2 separate regions of the Homo sapiens genome follow, and region 1 is linked to region 2. Evidence: fine-mapped expression QTL. A gene starts in region 2. The other region holds a variant in brackets. All regions are shown on one strand. Distances are from middle to middle.

The links.
Region 1: its variant is fine-mapped to the expression of CEBPA in whole blood (TOPMed, PIP above 0.99).

The regions. Positions count from the first base shown.
Region 1 is chr19:33,263,611-33,271,926 of GRCh38, forward strand. No RefSeq gene overlaps it. Among named protein-coding and RNA genes, the nearest start is that of CEBPA, 35 kb to the right of the region's middle. The variant C/T (reference allele first, on the strand shown) is at 4,955.
Region 2 is chr19:33,297,362-33,305,677 of GRCh38, forward strand. It overlaps CEBPA (CCAAT enhancer binding protein alpha), which reads right to left and starts at 5,173. Exons shown (of 1, transcript NM_004364.5): 1 at 2,573-5,173. The coding sequence starts at 5,053. The coding sequence ends at 3,977. It overlaps CEBPA-DT (CEBPA divergent transcript), which reads left to right and starts at 5,460. Exons shown (of 1, transcript NR_026887.2): 1 at 5,460-7,696. RefSeq lists silencers at 5,004-5,573, 5,654-5,913.

The DNA of each region.
Region 1 (8,316 bases), 34 kb before region 2:
ACTGAGTCCTTCTTACCGTCACTGTCATGTCCGCGGCGAGGCTGTGGGGGACACGGGCAAGAGATTGGAGAGGGGAGAGGGAGAGGAGAGAGGGCCTGGCCTGAGCTCCTGGCAGGCGTTTGTACAGGCTCACGTGCACACGTGTGCACACACAGCATGTACACCTCCTGGCCCTTGACACCTGAGCCGTCGCCAGGCCTTGCCTGTCACCCTTCCATTGCCTCTGCATGCCCGCACCTGTCCACGTCTTCCCCTGCCGCCCCACGTCCCCAGCCACCATCTCTCTTCATGGGATGGCAGCTCTGGCCTCATCCAGGCTCTTAGCCAACAGAGTGGCCATATTATTATTATTATTTTATTTTATTTTATTTTTTTGAGATGGAGTCTTGCTCTGTCGCCCAGGCTGGAGTGCAGTGGTGCAGTGTCAGCTCACTGCAAGCTCCGCCTCCCAGGTTCACGCCATTCTCCTGCCTCAGCCTCCCGAGTAGCTGGGACTACAGGTGCCCGCCACCACCCCCGGCTAATTTTTTGTATTTTTAGTGGAGATGGGGTTTCACTGTGTTAGCCGGGATGGTCTCGATCTCCTGACCTCGTGATCTGCCCGCCTTGGCCTCCCAAAGTGCTGGGATTACAGGCGTGAGCCACCGTGCCCGGCCCAGAATGGTCGTATTATTAAATGACCACATGATCGGGCTGCTTTCCGAACTTCACCTTCCCACGGTTCTAGGAAGCAGCCACCATTATCATGGTGGCCTCCAGGCTTGCGTGTCTAGCTCCTGTCCTTCCTGCCCTCACCTCCCACACCCCTTGGCTTCCTAGCACCTGCAGTTCTGCCTCGACCCCTCCTCAGTGCCCCGGCTTTTGCAAATGCTCTCCCCTCTGCCTGGAAAACTCTCCTCCCCATGACAACTCCCATGCCTCCTATGGCACTCGGCTTTCCTGTCCTTCATGAAAGCATCCAGGGTCCCCGAGTGCCAAGCTGCAGCAGGTCCCTTGTCTCGGGGCTTCCACCCTCGAGGCGTGAGCTCCCCCTGTCACCATCCTGCCTAGGGATTATGGGTGTAATTCCTACTTCCTGCTCACCTCCTGCCAGACTGTGGGCCTGATGGGGCAGGGACCGAGCCCTCCAGTCTGTCTAGGGCCTGGCCGCACCAGGCAGTGATTGAATGAACAGATCCATAAACACACCGAGAGACACGGATGTACCCAGGCCCATGCACAGACACACAAATGCAGTCACCAGCCATGCACGGAAACTCACATTGACAGACGCTCAACCTCACAAACGTGCAAACCAAAGTTACCTAGAGACGCACGCAGTGACCAAGACACACACACGCCCACTGTCTTCTGTCTATGCTCTGGGCTCACTGCCTCTCATCCAGCCCTGCCCCTCGGGCAGGATCCCCTGCGGGTGTGGGCCTCCTGCACTGCAGCCCTGGCCTTAGCTCCAGGGGGCCAATCCCATGTTATGGGCCCCCAGCAGGATTCTCTGGGCCCCAGCCGTGGTCTTGCCACGTGACTACTTACAAGTGGCTTTTATGCTAAATGCACATAATAGCACATTGGCATAATATCATTGCCAATACTCACAGGTACCATGGTTCACACAGGGAGCATGGTGTGAAGCTCCTCTTACAGGGCTTGTTAGAGGAAAGTTCCAGCTCAGGCAAAGGCTTGGGGTGGAGCGGACAAAGCTACAGTTTGGCCTTTTCCTCAGCAGCGTCCTGCTTCTAGAATCACCACTAAAGTTAACCCAGGCGAGGGGTTCTCTCCCAGCCTCCAGGAGGCTCCAGCTGGAGGCAAACCGCCGGTCTGGGAGAGGTACAGTGGCCAGGGAGAGGAAGGGTTTCAGGGTGGTGTGGGTGGTAGGGGCTGAAGGCAGGGGCAGCAGGGCAGGGCCTGGAGGCCAGCAGCACAGAGGGTCCCCACCTGGCTTCATTTTGGGGGAGGGGGCTGGGCAGGGTATCTGGCGGAGGAAGCAAGAAGGGGTGGCCTCAGAGACTGGCTTGCGGAGATGGGGCTGCATTCCCTGTGGAAGGGAGTGGGCCTTCACGGCTTCAAGGCCGTTTGTCACCTAAAGCAGCTACGGGCATCTTCTCTCTTCCCTCTTTCTTTTTAGAGACAGTGTCTCACTCTGTCTCCCAGGCTGGAGTGCTGGGGTGCGATCATAGCTCACCGCAGCTGCAAACTGCCGGGCTCAAGTGATCCTCCCACCTCAGCCTCCTGAGTAGCTGAGACTACAGGTGGGCACCACCATGCCCAGCCAATTTCTGTATTTTTTGTAGAGATGGCTGTGTTGCCCAGGCTAGTCTCAAAGTCCTGGCCTTAAGCAATTCTCCTGCCTCAGCCTCTTAAAGCACTGGTATTAGAAGAGTGAGCCATGGCGCCCTGCCTCTCTTAAAGATGGCTTTAACCATCACTTACAGCACAGCTGCATCCCTCCTTGGCGGGGTGGGGGAGATTCTTTCCCACCTCTCTGAGTGTCCCCATCTGGGTCCTTGCTCAGTGAGAGCCAGACTTTCTGCTATAACCAGGCCCTGAATGAGAGAGAACCAGAGTCATGTGCTGTGCACCAAATGCAGTGGGAAGACACGAGGGATGCCTCGGTGACCTTCTTTTCAAACAGGAGTCTTTCCCTGGTAACCTGCCTCTGACCTTCCATCAGCCAGATGTTATCTTCCCAAGGCAACAGTGTTCCAGAATTCTTTCTGAGGTGGCCCTGGCAGCTTCTGGGTCCTTCTATTCTGATTTCCAGTTTTCTTTTTCCATTTATTTATTTATTTATTTATTTATTTATTTATTTATTAATTATAGGGTCTTGCTTTGTTGCCCAGGCTGGAGTGCAGTGGCACGAACACAGCTCACTGCAGCCTCAAACTCCTGGGCTCCAGTGATCCTCCCGCCCCAGCCTCCTGTGTAGCTGGGACTACGGGCATGCACCACCATGCCTGGCTAACTTTTTATAGAGATGGGGTCTCACTATGTTGCCCAAGCTGGTCTCAAACTAGCAGACTCAGTGATTCTCCTGCCTCAGCTTTCTGAGTAGCTGGGACCACAGGTGAGCACCATTATGCCTGGCTAATTTTTTATAGAGATAGGGTCTCACTATGTTGCCCAAGCTGGCCTCAGACTAGTGGGATCAAGTGATCCTCCCACCTCAGCCTCCTGAGTAGCTGGAATTACAGGCATGTGTCACCATACTGGGCTAGTATTTGTATTTTTTGTAGAGACAGGGTCTTGCTATGTTGCCCACGTTGTGCTTGAACTCCTGGGCTCAAGCGATCCTCCCACCTTGGCCTCCCAAAGTGTTGGGATTACAGGCGTGAGCCACTGCACCCGGCTCCAGGTGCAGTGGAGCCGGCCCAGGCCTCACCCTTTCTCCAGACCTCACATTCCCAGGCTCGTTGAAGGGAGCAGGGTGCTTCAGGCAAACTTGGGGCTCGGGTCTCCAGGCACTTGGGGTTTTCTCCTCCCCCGGCGCTGGCAGCTGGCCTGGCTTCTCTCGGCTGGAGATGCTGAAGACTCCTCGGCTGGTCTGAGAAGCATGAGAACAGAGCTGGGAAAACTGGCCGTTTTTGTGGTTTGGGGGTTTGATGCAAGTTTCACAACTGATCTCCCAAGAACACGGTCGGTCCGGTCAGATGCGCTCCCTGGCCAGGGGCCTGCTTCCCTGCTGACGCCGGTGCTGACCGCCCGAGGCGGGGGCTCCACTCGCCCTCCCCACCCCATTCCCCGCTTTCCTTCTTTAGGGAACAGCCTGGAGGTGTGGAGAAGATGGCTTTGTTTTGGGGGCTTTCGTGGTTTCCACCTCATCCTTCAGCCTGGGGAGAGCTGACGGCCTGGTACCCCTCACTCTCATCCTGGAGTTTTTCTCAGACACCTCTGGGCAGCTGTTCTTAAAGCTTTCATTTTGAGGGGACAGTGGGCCAAGGACGTCTTTTGTAGTGATAATCTTGGGCCGGGGCTGATGAGTGGGAAGTCTTAGAAAGACCTGCTCTAGGGCTCCGGGAGAGATGAGGGCCGCCAGGGAGGCACACACCTCCGTAGCCAGCCCACTCCAGGAACCCAGAGCTGCCTCCCCGGCAGACAGCTGGGCTGGGGAGGGGGTCCTCAAGACCTGGCCCTGCCTCCAAGTAGCCTGGCCCCCGGACCTATCCTTCCACCCTGGGAAGTCCCGAGCTGCCTCAGGCCAGCTGGGGCAGAACTGAAATTGGTGACATGTGCCTCTCTGGTCCCTTGACTCCCGCCCCCGCTCCCTCACCCCCAGAGTCTTCCTGAAGGAGCCTCCAGACCCAGCGAGGAGCCACAGGCAATGCCCACCCTGAGTGGGAGCTGCTGTCCTGCCTTCCACGTGGCCCCAGCCTAGCTCGCCCTTGCGTGAACTGGGAGCTGCCCCACTTCCGGAGGTTGGTGCGTGGTTCTAGATCCTGTCGTCCCTCCGCTTGGGGGCACAACGGGCTGGGACCCATGCACGTTTCTCAGACACTCCATCTCTCATCTCACAGAGCAGGAGGGGTCTGCAAAGGGCAGGCTGGTCAGGACACAGTGTGAGGCAGGGGGCCCCGGGGAACAGAGTCCAGGCTCCACCTCTGCTGAGCAGGCAGTCCTGAGTGTTGTTACCAAGTTTGGGTGAGGGCCTGGGACCCTGTCACATCACAGCTGGGGAAACGGCCAGGGCTGGGACTCAGTGGCGAACAGCAGAACCCAACAGGCGGCCGCACAGACTCACGACCAGGGGGCTCGGTCAGAGGTGGGGACAGAGGGTGACCTGGACTTGCTGAGTCAAGGAGTCAGGCCAGCGCTGCGGAGAATCCCACAGGGCTACGCTTGGGGGCCAAGGAGAGGCACGTGGCCAGGCACATCTGGGTGGACAGAGGGGTTCCAGCCACTCACAGAGCCCTCTCAGTCAGAGCCAGATAAGCCTGGGCAACTGAGCCACTCAGGCAGGGAG[C/T]GGGCGGGCATCTGAGGTCCCCAGGGAGTCTGCCCTCCTGGTGGGCACAGCTGGGCCCAGATGAGGCCCACAGCATTGGGACTGGGCAGAGACACCCAGACATGGCTGCTGCTGTGGGCCCCAGGAAGGCCCCATATTTGGGGTGCATCTGCCGGGTGCCTGCGTCCCCTTCCCGTTCCCTATCCCTGTGCCCCCCTCCCAGCTTCCTGTTTCTGTTTTGGGGCTGCAGGAACTTCCTCTTCTCATCACGGACCAAAATGGCTTCTTGGTCTCAGCTGAAGGCCTGGCGGGGGGCTGGTCACCCCAGCCTGAAGGACAGCCACAGAGCGAGGGGGGCTCCGAGCCTCTGGGGGCGGTGACATCTGCCAAAGGGTGAACTGTGGCCCTTTCCCAAGAGACTCCCACAGCTCCTCCGATGGAGCCTGTCATGTGAGCACCTGCCCAGGCCACGGAGGGCCTGGGTCCTGCTGGAGTGACCCTAAACGGCCCCCTTGTGCCCTTCCCGCCTCACGCAAGGGACCCAAAATATGGATTGCCTGGTCTCCCCTTCCTCCTGCTCCCTCCCAGGCACATGGTGCAGACACTTACGGGCACCGTGTTGGCCTATGTGTGTGGATGAGCAAATACACACACACGGGGTAGGGGGGTGCCCTGAGCCTGTGACCCCCTGAGCCGGTGACCCCTGCCTGCCAGGGAGCAGAGCTGCAGATTCCTGGATGCCGAGGGAATAGAAGGCCTGGCCCGGCCTGGGCAGTACATGGTGAGGGTGTGTGTGTGTGTGTGTGTGTGTGTGTGTGTGTCTGGGTGAGTGTGCCTCTACGCATGTCTAGGGGGCACCATCCTTTTCCTCCCACTCCCCCTGCCCCCTTCCCCTGAGCAGAGCTGCTCCCTTAAATAAAGCTGAGCTGTGCCCTTTGGAGCCCCTGGGCCCTCGAGGGAGTGCAGGGTGACAGAGTGGGCTCCCCTTACTCCTGGGACTCCTCACTCAGGGGGAGCCTGTGGTGGGTGTTGGGGGAGGGCGTAGGAGGTGGGCACACGCCAGGGAGGGCACACAGGATGGTGGCCCCTGATCCCCTGGAGTTGTGATGCCCACAGGAGGGGTGCTTTACCAGGCTTGGGCACCCCAGGAACATCCTGGCCTTGGGATGGGGTGTGGGGGTAAATGGGGGACGGTGCTGAGAGGCCGAGCCCCGGTCTACCTCCCTGCCCATCCAGGGGTCCCGGGATGGAGTTGAGGAGCCAGATGCATCCTCTGGGGGGTTGTGGCCTGGGTCAAGGTCAGGACAGCGCCAGGGAAACTCCTGCTACCAGCTGCCCCTAGCCCCAGGCTGCCGCTGCTGTCCAGAATTCACCCAGCGTTCACTCCATGCCAGGCACCAACACGGACAGCTCCTTTAATGCCCGATGTCCATCCTTGTCACGGACAGGTGAGTACCCTGTGGCCAAATGGGCAGGAGGTTGTGGAGCCTGGCACCCACACTGCAGAGATGCCGAACTCTGGCCAGCGGCCTCCCTCCCCAAGGCCCGCTCCATGGGGAGACAGTGAGGGGAACCCACAAAGCCTGGGGTCACTGGGTCCCCCTAGCTGGCACCTAGCTTGTGCCCCCATTAGCACAGAGAGGAGGCGGTAAAACAAACACTCCCGACTGTTTACCCCAACATCTCGGGGCCATAATTAAGCTTCCTTCAATCGGGCCCTTATCAGCCCGGTATCTTGAGCAGCCTCTGACGGGGAAACATCCCGGAGCATCTAACGAAGGAAAGTTGGACGCCTTTTGAGACTTTTTAAATCCTGAAGAATAGGCCTCTGTTGCCAGCTACCCGCCTGTGGCAGCCTGCCTCATCTCTGGACTCTGCCGGCTGCCCCAGGGGCAGGGGCAGGACCAGGCGGCCCCAGCCCTGGCACCCCAGCCCTGCTGGGATGAGCCCCCAGGCCCTGCCCACCATCTGGCTCCTCCAATTGCAGTGTCCCTGCTGGCCAGCGGTGGGGTCCTGAAGGCACCCCCTCTTCTGCCCTCAATGCCCCACCTCACCCTGCCAGATGCCAATATCTGCCTTCGGCAGGCACCCTTGCCAGCCTGGGCCAAACCCAGGTGGTGGGTGGGGCTGGTGATGAAGGGTGAGCTCTCATTGCCCACAGCCCCCCATCACCTGGTTCTACAAGTTCCCCACCAACCAGGTCCAGACCTGCCACTCTCAGCCTCTGAGCTTTGCTGAAGCTGTTCTCTCCACTTGCAAGGCTTGTCCCTGCTCCTTCCTCCTGGATAATTTCTGCTTATATTTTAAGACTTAGCTTCCAGATGTGGCGGTTCATGCCTGTAATCCCAGAATTTTGGGAGGCTGCATTGGGAGGATTGCTGGAGCCCAGGAGTTCAAGACTGGCCTGGGCAACATAGTGAGACCCTATCTCTACAAAAAATTAAAAAATAAGCTGGGTATGGTGGTGCATGCCTGTAGTCCTAGCTACTAGGGAGGTGGAGGTGGGAGGACTGTTTGAGCCCAGGGGTTCAAGGCTGCAGTGAGCCACTGCACTCCAGCCTGGCCAACAGAGAGAGACTCTGTCTTTTAAAAATTAAAAGAAGACTTAGTTTGAGTATCACTCCCTCTGGGAGCCATCTGTGCATTCCAGGTCAGGCTCCTGTCTCTCCTCTGTGCCCCTCCAACTTCATGGTCTCCATGCCCCAACTCCGTGTGTGTCCCTTGGGGGGCAGACCTTGGGTATCAGGCCAGCCCTCTACCAGGCCCAGAGCAGCCTCTACAAGTGCTCAGCTTCTGTGTATTGGAGTTAAGAAAGCATGACCTGGGGATACCCATGCCGCCCAGCAGCCGACGGTAAACCTGGAGTCCTCACCGCCATGCTCTGAGGGAGGTTCTGTTCACTCCACATCATAAACCGGAAACAGCGCTGGAGCAGAGGCGACAGCTGGGTGCATGGTGGCTGGAGAGCCTAGGATACCAGGCAACAAACCTTTTCTGCAAAGGGCCAGATGGTAAACATTTTAGGCTTTGTGGACCGGACAGTCACTGCTATAGCTTTTCAACTGCTTTTGCAGGGCAAAATCAGCCATAAATGAATGGGTGTGGCTGTGTTCCAATAAAACTTTATTTATAGACACTGAAACGTGAATTTCATATCATTTTCATGTGTCATGAAATCTTCTTTAGATTGTTTTCCAATCTGGTGGCAGGCTGTATTTGGCCTGGGGACTGTAATGGGCTGATTCCTGGTGCAGGGTGAGAATTAAATATGTTTTCCCACCTGGTTCAGGGCCAGCCTGGTCAGTCCTCCCTCAGGGCCCAGCAGCTGCTCGGAGGAGGAAGCAGAGTCACTCCATCTCCAGCCCAAGTGGAGGACACAAATG
Region 2 (8,316 bases):
TCAACACCATCTAGGCAAGGACTCTGCCCCATGCCTGGAGAAGGCCTGTGGGTGCCTTGGAGGCCCCTCTTGGCTAAACAAAGTCAGGGGTTTCTGCTATCCCTTGTCCTTCCCCATGAGTGGCCCCTTCCCCTCCTGTGAGACCAGCAGCTCCTGGAGGAGGCCTGGCAGGTTCCTGCCTGGGAAGGAGCAGGTGGGAGAGCTGGGAGGGGCAGACACTCCTCACCAGGCCCAGTGGCTCATCGCAGGTGTCAGGGCCAAACCCCACGTTCACAGATTCCCAGGAGATCCAGGAGATAACAGTAATATCCGTGACAGCACTAAGCCATCAGGACGCATCTGGCAGCAGAGGAGATGCCTCCCTCCCTTCTACCCTTGCCCTTTCCTTGAAGGCCAGCTAACCCTGAACAGCGCTGTCACGGGACACAGGGCTCAGGAGTGGCGCAGCAAGGGGGGCGAGGTCCCTGCAGTCAGGTGCTACATGTCAAGGGGAGATCGATCAGGGCAAAGGAGAAGCATCCAGGCATCTTGGGACTGGGGCCAGCAGGAGGCCACCCTCCCCAGGTATTTCATCAAAGCTGCTGCCTCCATAAAGCCCTCCCTGGTGGACCCTGTTCACACTCTGAGATCCCCTTCATTGCACTTGGCAACCTTAAACCACAGCTTAGGGCCTCAAGGGTGTGAGCTCCCCAAGAGCCAGAGCAGAGTCGGCTTGTTCCCAGCCCAGTGCCCCATCTTTGGCGCAGGCCCTGGCATACAGTAGGCATCTGATAAATACTTGAGGTGTGTTCAGTGCTGGGCTCTTGGAATGGTTCTTCCTGAAGGCTGTAGTCAGGAGGGGAACTGTGAGGAACCCTGCAGGAAGCGGTGGGTGGCCAAGGGTGACTCTGTTCCCGGGAAGCCCCTACAGCTGGACACGGGGTACATGCTGGGCAGGTTCACCCCATGCCGCCCAAAAGACCTTCCTCCCCTCTACTTTGGCCCCCCCCGGGGGCCTCGCCCTCCTCATCCCTTTCCTGGGGCTGGATGTGATTGGATCCTTCTTGTCCCTAACAAAGCCCACCCTGGAACTCAGGACCAGGAGGAGGACTCGGGGTAGGAGGGATCCCTTCCGGGAGCCATCAGCTTTAAAAGAGGAAGCCCCTAGCGGGCTGGCACAGCAGAGAGGAGGGGAAGGAGTGAGGGCAGGAGGGTCGCCCCACCCCCTCCCGTCCTAGGACCTGTTCTGGGGGGAAAGGGGGAAGCCAGGGATCAGCCCCCTCAAACAAGAAAAACTGGAATTAGCACTGAACTCAGAGGGTTTGCTGGGGCTTAGCAAGCTGCGACCTGCCCCAGGCCTCGGGGCACGCGGCGGGGCTCTGCCTCCTCTGTTCCCAGGGTGGCGGGGCAGGCGCCGCCTCCTCACTGGGCTCGTGGCCTCTCCTCTGCCAAGGGCGGCCGTGGGTGAGGAGGCGGCCAGACACAGGACAGAGTGGGGGGCCGGAAGGGGTGCCAGCTAACCACGCAGGCAGGTAAAGCTAAGCTTCCAGAGTGTAAAAGGAATGTGTAATTTCTCGAAAATGCCCCAGCCCGCATTGGTACACACAGTAAGCCACTCAGTGAACATTCTCTCGGTACAGAGTTAAAAAAAAAAGAAAAGTGCAATTTATCTTTTACCCTCCGTGAGGGTAAAATCTGAAAAGCACCATCAGCCTCCTGGGCCTCTTTCTCCCGGGCCTTGTTAGTTCAGGGATAAGGGCTGCCCTCCCTTGCTTGGCTGTCACTGCTGCTAAGGGGGTGCCGGAGTGCCTGACCTTACAGGGTGCTCATTGGAGTTGGGGGCACACCAGCACTCAGTCCCCTGCTGGGTCTGGGATGAATGCAGTGGGGAGTGTGGATGCTGGGTGGGTTCTTGAACAGCCAGTGTGTGGGGCAGGACCAGACCCCTGTTGCAGGCCTGCCTCAGCCCCCTTTCTTGTGAGGGCTGGGGCTGGGCAGGTGTGGAGGGCTGGATGGAGGGGTCTCTCTCTTCAGGCTGCCTTCGGGCCTCGCAGGGGTAGGGTGTAGCCACATGGTCTAGGGAAAGAGGAGAGGGTTGGAGGGTCCTACCACTGGAGGCCTCTTCCTGCTGGCCGAGGGTCCTGCTGGAATCTGGAGCTGCGGTGTGTGTGAGTGGCCAGGGCTGCAGCTGTAGGTGATTTGCAAGGAAGTCTGCACAAAGGGCTCCTTGAGCCTAGGGCTGCTTAGCCAGGCCTACCCCTCAGGCAGAGGACTCCCTCTCCTCCTCCCCGGGGCAGATAAGAAGCCTCGCCAAGGCCTCAGCCCAGTAACCCCTTCAGCCCCCTCCCCTGACCCCAAGAGACTGCCTTCAGGCTCTGGACATACTCCATTTGGAGCCTTGTCCTCTGCTATTTATTTGTCTTGCCTGGGGGAAGTAAGTCACCCCCTTAGGGTAAGAGGGGCTCAGGATGGATGGAGAGCTCATGAAAGTCAGGATTGCCGCCAGGGAAAATGCTGTATTATTTACAAATGTGACCTGGCCCACAGACAACCTTGGAAGTAGCTTCTTTCTGGTTTTAAAAAGACACCGACATTGACTTTGATATGTTTATATTATAGATATAATACATAAAACATCTAGAGTGAGACTCTACGTTCTCCCCAAAAGAAGAGAACCAAGCCGTCCTTCCCTGCTCCCAGCCCCAGTGATGCGTTGGCGGGAGGCCACCTCCCTTCCCGACCAGGAGCCAGGGCCTCTGGGGGACAAGCCTTGTGGGCAGCCCAGGCCGGAGGGGCTGGGGAAAGCTGAGGGCAAAGGAGAACCCCCCTCACCTCATTGGTCCCCCAGGATCAAAAGTAATCCCAAAACCAAAAGGAAAGGGAGTCTCAGACCCTTCCCCCAGCTGCCGACGGAGAGTCTCATTTTGGCAAGTATCCGAGCAAAACCAAAACAAAACAAAAACCAAATAAAATGGTGGTTTAGCAGAGACGCGCACATTCACATTGCACAAGGCACTGCTGGGGCACAGAGGCCAGATACAAGTGTTGATATCGGCTGATAAAGCAAAATATTTGGAAAGCTTGTCATAACTCCGGTCCCTCTGGGATGGACTGATCGTGCTTCGTGTTCCTAGGCAATGCTGAAGGCATACAGTACAAACAAGGCTGAGGGTCCCAGTGGCCCTTCACCCCCCATGCCCGCCCCACAGCCAGATCTCTAGGTCTCCCTCTCCCACCAGGGGTATACATCCTCAGAGCTGACCCACGACCTAGCTTTCTGGTGTGACTCGGGGTGGGGGCTCCCACTGGTCACCTGGTGACCCCCATCGCAGTGAGTTCCGCCCCAAGGGGAAGCCCAGCCTATAGCAGGCTGGGGTGGGGTGTGTGCGGAGGGAGGTGGGAGAGGCGTGGAACTAGAGACCCTCCACCTTCATGTAGAACTAGGGGAACAACCTTAGGTTCCAAGCCCCAAGTCCCTATGTTTCCACCCCTTTCTAAGGACAGGCGTGGAGGAGCGGCTGGGGCTGGCGGGCTTGTCGGGATCTCAGCTCCCTGAGCCCTCCTCCTGCCACGGGCCTGCTCCCCTCCTTCTCTCATGGGGGTCTGCTGTAGCCTCGGGAAGGAGGCAGGAAACCTCCAAATAAAATGACAAGGCACGATTTGCTCCCCCTACTCAGTAGGCATTGGAGCGGTGAGTTTGCATTTCCAAGGCACAAGGTTATCCTAAATACTAGAGTTGCCGGGCTCCCAGCTCAGCCCCAAGAATTCTCCCCTCCTCGCAGGGAGAAGCCACCGCCTGGCCCCCTCATCTTAGACGCACCAAGTCCGGCGCAGAGGAAGGGAGGGGACACGCGGAGCAGGCCAGGCTTTCAGGAGGCACCGGAATCTCCTAGTCCTGGCTCGCACGGCTCGGGCAAGCCTCGAGATCCGGCGACCCCAAACCACTCCCTGGGTCCCCGCCGGAGGCTGGCCCAGGGCGGTCCCACAGCCGCGCGCCTCACGCGCAGTTGCCCATGGCCTTGACCAAGGAGCTCTCTGGCAGCTGGCGGAAGATGCCCCGCAGCGTGTCCAGTTCGCGGCTCAGCTGTTCCACCCGCTTGCGCAGGCGGTCATTGTCACTGGTCAGCTCCAGCACCTTCTGCTGCGTCTCCACGTTGCGCTGCTTGGCCTTGTCGCGGCTCTTGCGCACCGCGATGTTGTTGCGCTCGCGCCGCACCCGGTACTCGTTGCTGTTCTTGTCCACCGACTTCTTGGCCTTGCCCGCGCCGCTGCCGCCACTCGCGCGGAGGTCGGGGTGCGCGGCGCCCAGCCCCTTGAGCGCGCTGCCAGGGCCCGGCAGGCCGGCGGCACCGAGCGCGGGCGCGGGGTGCGGGCTGGGCACGGGCGTGGGCGGCGGCGTGGGGTGACCGGGCTGCAGGTGCATGGTGGTCTGGCCGCAGTGCGCGATCTGGAACTGCAGGTGCGGGGCGGCCAGGTGCGCGGGCGGCGGGTGCGGGTGCGGGTGCGAGGGCGGCGGCGGCGGCGGCGGCTGGTAAGGGAAGAGGCCGGCCAGCGCCAGCTGCTTGGCTTCATCCTCCTCGCGGGGCTCCTGCTTGATCACCAGCGGCCGCAGCGCCGGCGCCCCGACGCGCTCGTACAGGGGCTCCAGCCTGCCGTCCAGGTAGCCGGCGGCCGCGCAGCCGTAGCCGGGCGGGGGCCCGTGCGCTCCCCCGGGCATGACGGCGCCGCCGGGGCCCGCGGGCGCGCCCGGGTAGTCAAAGTCGCCGCCGCCGCCGCCGCCCGTGGGGCCCACGGCCGCCTTGGCCTTCTCCTGCTGCCGGCTGTGCTGGAACAGGTCGGCCAGGAACTCGTCGTTGAAGGCGGCCGGGTCGATGTAGGCGCTGATGTCGATGGACGTCTCGTGCTCGCAGATGCCGCCCAGCGGCTCCGGGGCGGCAGGTGGGGCGGGAGGCTGCGCGGGGCCCGCGCCCCGGGGAAAGCCGAAGGCGGCGCTGCTGGGCGCGTGCGGGGGGCTCTGCAGGTGGCTGCTCATCGGGGGCCGCGGCTCCGCCTCGTAGAAGTCGGCCGACTCCATGGGGGAGTTAGAGTTCTCCCGGCATGGCGAGCCTCGGCGGCCTCCAGCCTGCGCGGGGCGTCGCCGCCGCCCACCCGGAGACCCTGCTCGCCCGCGCCCGCGCACCTCCGGGTCGCGAATGGCCCGGCCCGCGCCGGCCCAGCTTTTATACCCGGCAGGCCGCGTCGCCCCCTAGAGTCCGAGGCGGCCTCTGTCCCCGGGCTGCGGCGGCGCGGCGCCTGCTGGGTCCTAGCGCGCGGCCGGCATGGGGCGGCGAACCAGCGCGGCACAGCGCCGCGCTCCCCAGGCAGGCCGCGGCGCAACGCCCACCGCCTCCAGCGCGCCCAGCAGAGCCGCGGCGCTCGCTCCAAGCTCCGCCCCCGGCCCGGCCGTCGCCCCCGCGCCCACGTGGTCGGTAGCGGGGGCCCCCTCCTCCTGCCTGCCCTAGGCGCCCGTATCCAGCCACGGCCGGGAGCCCAGGAGTATCCCGAGGCTGCACGGGGTAGGGGTGGGGGGCGGAGGGCGAGTCTTGGTCTTGAGCTGCTGGGGCGCGGATTCTCTTTCAAAGCCAGAACCAGGCCTGTCCCGGACCCGCGTCCCGGGGAGGCTGCAGCGCAGAGCAGCGGGGCTGGGGCCGGTGGGGGGCCGTTTGGGACGCGCGGAGAGGTCCTGAGCGCGGTGGCTCTGCGTCTCCTAGCTCTGATCTCCAGGCTACCCCTGTGATTCCGCGCAGAGGTACCTCTCGGAGGACGCCGGGGTCCCATGGGCGGCGCCGCGCAGGGCGCTAGGACCCCGCGGGGAGCGGAGGCGGCCTCGGCCCGGGAGCCTGGAGGACCTGGCCGGTCGATCCGCCCGGGCTGGAAAACTTTCTTTATAATTACTTCTCCAGGTCGGAGCGCGCGGCTTGCTAGGCGCGCGGGGCCGGCGCTGTTACCCGGCGTGGAGTCGCCGATTTTTTTTCCTGCGGGACCGCGGGGCCCCCCAGACTAGCGGAGCTGGACGCCGGGGCGAGCACGGGGAGGGGCGCACCGAGGGAGGAGACAAACTTAACTCTGGGGCCGGGATTCCGAGGCGGGGGCCGCAGCCCTCGAGGCCCGAAGCCACCGCTTCCTCCCCCGCCTCCCCATTCAGGTGGGCGCCAACGGCGGGAGCGAGGGTGTCCAGGCCGCCGGGCTGCCAGGTCCGAGCACGCACAGGGAGAACTCTGCCCAGTGGTTCGCCGGGCGCTGTAGTCCCCGGGATCCTAGGGACCGAGGCGGCCAGGCCCTGGGGCCCCTTGAGTGCGGCAGCTAATGCTCTCACCGCGGCGGGGGAAGGAGCTTGCCACCGAGACCCCCAGCCACGTGCGTCCCTCGCATTCTTTACCGGGGCCGGGGTGGCGGCTACGGACCGTCAGCTGGGCCCAGATGGAGTCTTGGGAGCCCTCAAGTGTCTCCTGTCCTTGCCCGCGCCGCCCCTCGCCACTGGCGCTGAGGCCTGACGCCGCCTGCGTCCCGGCTAGAGGCGCGCTTGCCTACAGGTGAGGGAAGACCCCCTTCACCGACAGTGGCCTTAGGCCTGGCAAGGCGCCACGACCCGCCCAGGAGCCCCGGAGGGGGCACAGCTAAAAACACCGCTGGAGAGCCCCGAGCTTCCACGACGATCGCAGTAAAGAAGCAGTTTCATCTGGGCAACGCACACTGCGCTTTAATCAAGTTCCTATTCAACATAGTCCCAGTGATTAATAGCCCAACTGCTTCGTTTTCGGTCCAGAGCTCATAAACAAGATATTTTTAGCTTGACGCTTTTGGACGGGAGGGAGTAAAAACCAGATACGTTAAATAAATATCCCGATGTGAGCCGGAGAGCTGCTTGCTGAGCCAAATGCAGGACCCATTCATATAGCATTCACCTGTGGAGGGAGACCTGGACGGAAATCAAAAAGCACCAAGAGCGATTTGCGTTTTTTTCTGCGGTGCTAAAACTAATGGCTTTTCCTACCTAGGAACAAAGAAACGCCACTGTACATGCACGGTTCCCGGCCTGTGGAGTTGTGGGAGGAAGGCGATGTCTGGCCTTTTTTGCACAGCTGCTGTTGCCTGCCCAGAGATCGGGAACTCTGCCCCGTAGGACTGGAAGAAACCTCAGTAATGGGAATAAGACTTTGTCCAATAGGGGGCTGATGAATGTGTGGGGGCGACAATGGCAAGGAGTGGGACTCCCGGCCCGGGGTTCGCCAACCCCAGGGGCCACAGGTCCTCCTACAATTGAACCAGAATTCACCCACCCGGGCCTGCCCTGTGCAGGGTGCCGAGAGCCCAGGGATGCATGAGAGGGTGGCTCCTGCCTCTGGGAACTGGGACAGTGGGAGAGACGGATAAGTTGTCACACAGAGGCTGCTGGGAGGAAGGAGGAGACAGAAGGAGTAGGGGATGGGACTTCATTCATTCATCAAATGCACACGAGGCACAAATGGGAATCAAGGGTGGATGTGCTGTGATGAAGAGAAGTCCTGCCCTGAACAAGGTGGCGCTGTGGAGGAGGCAGAGATCAGATTTGTCTGCGGAGGTGTTATGGACTGAACTGTGTCCCTGCCCCAAATTCCTATGTTGAAGGCCTAACCCCCATGTGACTGTATTTGGAGATAAGGCTTTTAGGAAGTCATTAAAGTGAGATGATGTCATATGGGTAGGGTCCTAATTTGATAGGATTGGTGGCCTTATCAGAAGAACAATGTCATGGGCATGCACAGAAAGGAGGTGGCCGTCTGCAAGCAGGGAAGAGGCCCCTCACCAGAACCTGAGGGTGCTGGCAGCTTGGCTTTGGCCTTGGGCATCCAGCCTCCAGAACCATGAGAAATAAATGTTTATGGTAGGTCTATGATGGCAGCCTGCTTGGACTGAACCGGCGGTGAGACAGGGCTTCATGCAGGAGCAGACCTTTGAGCTGGGCCTTGAAAGTTGAGCAGGAATTTGCTGGAAGGATAAGGGAGGAAGGCTCTTCTAGGAGGAGGGAATGGTAAGTGCAAAGGTGGAGAGCCTGCCAGTGCATGTGTTCTGGTAACAAAGAACGAGATGGTTGGCCGGCTGGAGAGTGGGGTGAGGGAGGGTGGGGCCTAGATAAGGCTGGATCCGCAGACAGGGCTGGGCTGATGGCCAAGGCCACTGCAGGTGAAGGGGGAACCCTTATCTCCCAGGCTTTTGACCTCCAGATTTTAGCAGGGGAGCTTCGTTGTCGGATTTGGGTTCCTGAGAATCTACTCTGGCCAAGACGGAGAGGGGGTGTTGACCAGATGGGAAAGGATG